Regions from separate parts of the Homo sapiens genome. Here region 2 is linked to region 1. Evidence: fine-mapped expression QTL. Tissue or cell type: whole blood. Region 1 holds a variant in brackets; the other region holds the start of a gene. All regions are shown on one strand. Distances are between the middles of the regions.

The links. PIP is the estimated chance that this variant, and not a neighbour inherited with it, causes the effect.
Region 2: ANKRD27 starts here. The variant in region 1 is fine-mapped to the expression of ANKRD27 in whole blood (TOPMed, PIP above 0.99).

What each region holds. Positions count from the first base shown.
Region 1 is chr19:32,518,192-32,520,945 of GRCh38, reverse strand. No RefSeq gene overlaps it. Among named protein-coding and RNA genes, the nearest start is that of PDCD5, 62 kb to the left of the region's middle. The variant A/G (reference allele first, on the strand shown) is at 1,497.
Region 2 is chr19:32,673,797-32,676,423 of GRCh38, reverse strand. It overlaps ANKRD27 (ankyrin repeat domain 27), which reads left to right and starts at 1,244. Exons shown (of 29, transcript NM_032139.3): 1 at 1,244-1,353. It overlaps RGS9BP (regulator of G protein signaling 9 binding protein), which reads right to left and starts at 576. Exons shown (of 1, transcript NM_207391.3): 1 at 1-576. The coding sequence starts at 160. RefSeq lists silencers at 330-389, 960-1,689, 1,710-1,759 and enhancers at 700-809, 697-1,316.

The sequences.
Region 1 (2,754 bases):
ATTTCCAGTGCTCTCTCTGTCTGAGAAGATCATAGAATGCATTTTCTGGGCCTCTTATGGTTAAGTGGGGCCATATTCTAGCCAGTGAGCTGACAGACAAAGAGACACATCTCACTTCCTGGCCAGGGCATTTAATTACTGGTGCAAGCCCTTCAAGAGCCATTTCCCTCTCCGCCATAGTGACCAGGCATGTCCCAACAGTGGCTGCTTCATCAGCTGGTCTAGGAGGGAAGACAGCATGATGGAAAGTCCCAGCCAACCTGCTGGATAAGTAGCAAGAGTGGAAATAACCCTTTATTGTTTTAAGCTGCCAAGGTTTTAGGGCTGTTCATTATGGCAACAGAATCAAGCCTATCCTAAGAACAGAAATTATGGAGGGAATATTTTACTCGTGAAAATCACTTTGCACTCCATCTCCCTGTTTTGTGGCCAAAACACTTGCTAAAGGGGAGTGCAACTGGCGCAGTGCTGAATACATTATAGGTGCCCAGAGGGTGGTTTATGATTGACTGGTGAACACCTTATTTTTTTATGCTACAGATTTGCTTTCATCAGACCTATAAGGTCTCCACTTAGCTATTTTTAGAACATAAATTGGAGAGGACTGCTTTGTAGTGACAGTAATATAAAAGTAGGTAACTTGGAGTCCGTTCATTTTGAAACCAATTGGACAGCTCACATTCAGGTACCACAGCAGAAGAGTTATAAGAAAAGATGAGGATGGAGAAAGAAGGCTTGACAAGTTTAAATGCTGCTGGCAGAAATACTCTGAGGGGATCCCAGCCGTCTCAAAATTCACTGCATGATGAGTGTTGAAGGGAGACAGATGCTTTTTAGCATCAATTCCCAGTGGCTTTGTTTTCTATAGAGTAGAGAAGGGACCTAGGAAGGTCATTATATTAAATTGTTGCAGGTCAAGTTCAAAGTCATCCATTCTTGTAGGTATTCTTCTTATTTTACCAAGTATGTCCCTGCCTGGTATGTATTACCATCCCAAAAGCTTCACAGTTTGCAGCTTATCCTCATTTCATTTTGATTTTAATATAGACTGTGTTACACTTGTCTGTTTCCTAAGAACAATGAACACGTGGAGATAAGGCAGAGTGGGGCAGCATGATCAGATTTGCATTTTGAAACAAGTCTACAGTGCGCAGAATGCACAGTAGGATGCAGGAGTGGCTGTGGATAGACAGGAGGCTGTTACAGACTCTAGGTGATAGGTGATGATAGCTTGAGCAAGGTAGTGGTAAAGAGGGAGAAGTGGACAGATACCTGAGATGCTGAGGAATTAAAATAACTTGCGGATGCTTTGGATACTGGAAACAAGTGAAAAGATAGCACAAACACAGTTATGAGGTTCCTGTGGCCTGAACAACGGGATAAAGGTGCCATTCATGGAGCTGGGTTGAACGGTGGCCTCCCAAGAGACATGTCCACCCAGAACCTGTGAGTGTGGCCTTATTTTTAAAAAGGGGTCTTTGCAGATGTAATTAAGG[A/G]TTTTGAGGTGAGATCATCCTGGGTTATTCTGAGTCCTTCTAAGAGAAACGCAGAGGGAGATTTGAAACACAAGAGGAGAAGAGAAAGCCACATGAAGATGGAGAAACAGATTGAAGTTATGTGGCTGCCAGACAAGAACCAGTGGAGCCACCAGAAGTTGGAAGAACAAAGGAAGGATCCTCCCTTCAGTCTGGCCTTTGGAAGGAGGCCAACTCTTGAAACTTGGTTTCAGACTTCCTGTCTCTAGAACTGTGAGAGAATATATTTCTGTTGTTTTAAGCCACTGAGTTTGTGGTTATTTGTTACAGTAAGCCCTAGGAAACAAATACACTAGAGAACACAAGAAAAAAAAAACAGGTTTGGGGTGAAAATAATGAGTTCAGTTTTGAACATATTGAGTTTGAAGTACCTTGGAGACATCAAGAAGAAATGTCAAATGGGTCAATATGTACACAATTCTGGGCTACAGAAGTCAGTTGGTGAGTCATATGCATTGAGATGGTAGTTGAAACAAGGACTTGGGTAAGGTCACCAAAAAAGAGAAAATCAGAGTGAGAAGGGAAATCTTAGGACCAAGCCCCGAGGAGCTCCAACGTCAAAGGGATGAATAGGAGAAGGTAATCCCACACAAGCACTAGAGAAGGGGCAGCTACAGAAACAGGAATTGAAACAGGAGAGCATTGTCTTAGAAAGTAAGGGAAGAGGGGGTTTCAGAAAGGATGGAGCAGTCACCAGCATTCAAAATTAAGAGAACACAGGGACTAAAAAATGTTCATTGAGTTTCATGAAGTCACCGGCAACACCAGCAACAGTTAGTCAAGTAATTCTGCCAAAAGCTATCTTGGAGTGTACTGACAAGTGACAACAGACAGCTTTTTTTTTCTTTTGAGGAGGGAGGGTATTTGGAAAAATAAATAAAGGAGATAAATAAAATGATACATATTGCAAAGAGAAGGGAAGTGGAGGTTTGGTTTTGTTTTGTTTGTGTTTTTGCTGGTTTGCTTCTGTGGGAAGAGTCTTGAGTCCACTGAAAGGCTGTTGGGAATGATGCAGTTGAGTTGAGAGGTTGACTGTGCAACAAAGGGGTAATAATCAATTTACCCCTCTCAGACTGGCTCTCAATAATCTGAGAAAAAGGATCGAAATGGGAACCAAAGCACAGGTGGAAGTATCGCATCTCCACTGCTACAGCAGAAAAGGATGACAGGGTGGTGCAGATGAATGGGTAGAAGATGAGAAAGTTCTAATGCCATGGCC
Region 2 (2,627 bases), 160 kb before region 1:
TGGACACCGCCAGCTCCTGCGCCTTCTGGCGCGTCTTTTGCAGCTCCTGCCGCAGGTTCTGCGAGTCCGCCGAGCCACCGACGGTCAGCACCAGGTGGTGGTAGCACGCAGTCGTCTTGTTGAGCCCGTCCAGCAGCGCCTTGCACTCCTCCCTCGCCATCGCGGTGGGCTCCGGCTGGGCCCGGCCGCCCGCGCCCGTTAGCCTCCCCCTCAGCGCGGCAGGATGTGGCTAACCCCCATCCCGGCCTTGGGCCGCGCGGCACGAACGCTCTTCATGGTCCGTGACTCGCTCGGCGCTACCGCCAACGTCCACGGAGCCCGCCCGGGACCCTCGACGTGCGCCTCTGCGGACGGGGCGCGCAGAGGGAGCCCCGTTAGCGGTCCCCCGCTCCCTCGTCCATCCTCCCCAGGCGCACTCCGAGTCACACGTCGTGTCTCTGCACCGCCCTGGCCTCCACGGTGGCTCCCTGCGAAGCTGAGGGTGCGGTCCCCATCCTCCGTGGGTGCCAACTCCGGGGCAAGCAGGCTGCAGAGCCGCGCGCTCCGCCTTAGGCGCTGCCAAGGGCGGCCGGGTAGGGTTTCCTAGGACCCGCCCACCCCGCTCGTCCCGGCCGGAGCTGCCACCCCCTGGATCAGTGGTAGGCGGGGCTCCACGCGGGGAGGTCACGTGTGGGTGGCCCATCCCTCCCTCCCCTTCGCCCCATCCGAGTTCTGGAATGTTAGCGCTCGGGAGATCCAACCCGTTCTATTTTACGGATGGGGAAACTGAGGCCCAGGTAAAAAGCGGGCCAGGCTCCCGCGGAGTTTTTGCCTGTGATGGGACTAGAACCCAGCTATACTGACTCCCGGACCCTGTCGGCGACAGGACGTCGGGTGCCCCGCAGGACTGGGCACCTCCGTGCCCCAAAGCGAGCAGTGACTGGCAATCCGAGGGGCTGGGCGCCGCCGGGGTCAGGTGTCCCTGCCGCGTTGCGCTCACGTTGGTCGGTGCTTCCAAGCGCTAACCCCACCTCTAGTGTCAGCCCGGCTCCCAGCCCCGCCCCTCACGTTCTGGGCACGCGCAGTTGCGGGCGTGGGGCGGGGCCAGCTGGAGTAGGAAGCGTAGGGAGCCGCCTGAGCCCCGCCCCCGGCTGGGCTGGACTCCATGATTGCTCTGCGTACACGTCACTCTGGGAAACGACGGTTTCTCATTGGGTCAGCTGTGGCGCGGCTCCGCCCCACGGCGGAGTAAGGGGTGGGCTATAGGGCCAGATCGCCGCGCGAGGGTGGTGGGCATCGAGGTCCCAGCAGCGGACGAGGGAGGTGCCGCCGTCGCCCAGGATGGGCTGGGAATGAAGCGATGTAGCCTTTTAAGTAAGTGTCCTCGCGCTGGCCTCCTCCTGCGCCTCCCCTCCCGCGGGATGGCTGCGCCTCGGGGCGCGGCGGCCGGGCGGGGCCCGGAGAGTGAGGGGGGAGGGGCTCCCTGCTCTCCGGAGTCCGCTCCCGGGTCCGCCAGGTGGCCCCGCGCCGCCCCAGCCCCCGCGTCCCCAGGTGGGTGCCCGGTGCGCAGCCGGCGCGCCCTGCCCACTCCGCCCCTCGGGTCTGGAGGAGGGGAGCGGTCGGCGCGGAGAATGCACCCTCCGAGCCTCGCTGCGTCGACACCGGCGGGTGTGGCCGGGGTGCCGGGTCCGGCGGTTCGGATCTGGCGGGGCGCGGGGCGGTCGCCGCGCGGTTTCCCGGAGGCCTAGGGTCTGCTGGAGGGGAGCGGCGGGTGGGGGTCCGAGCCGCGCGCGCAGCGGTTGTGGTTTCCGGGGGGTGATGAGGGCGCGGAGCGGGGAATCCCTGGCTGCCGGCCTCTCGCAGGGCGGGGGGGTCTCTGCATTCCCACAGGTAAAGATTGTTAAAGGAAAACTCTTAAGCACCGAGAGATGTTCCGGATTCTGAGTCTGTTCCGTCTTGTGGTTGAAAATGGACTGCCCAGGAGCACACGAGCCACGCGGTGCCCCCTTGGCTGCCCCACGAGGTGCAGGGGACGTGGGCACTCGCGGCCTGTGCTGGGCGAGGGAGCAAGGGACGGGTCTTCGCTGAGGATTTAGAGCATGCAGGGAACGAGGGCTGCTGGCAGTGCTGGAGGGACTGTGAGGCTGCAGAGAGCTCAGATTTTACAAGTTGATGGGTTTCATGGATAGAGGCCCCTATTTTGATTAAAAAATGCACTCTTCCCACTGGCCGAAGAGTAGAGCAGTGGATATTTTTTTTCTTTTCTTTCTTTTCGTTTTTTTCTTTTTGAGACAGGGTCTGGCTCTGTTGGCTAGTCTGGAGTGCAGTGATGCCATCATAGCTCATTGCAGCCTCAAACTCCTGGACTCAAGCAATCCTTTCACCTCAGCCTCTGTAGTAGCTGGGACTACAGGCGCATGCCACTATGCACGGCTAATTTTTAATTTTTTTTTTTTTTTTTTGTAGAGATGGAGTCTAGCAGGTTGCCTAGGCTGGTCTTGAACTCCTGGACTCAAGCCATGCTCTCGTCTTGGCCTCCCAAGGTGTTGGGATTACAGGCACTAGCCACCACGTTTTGCTGAGCAGTAGCTGTTACGTTTCGAGATCAGCCTGGCATGAGGACTGGTGTTGAGGTGGCCTAAGGGTCC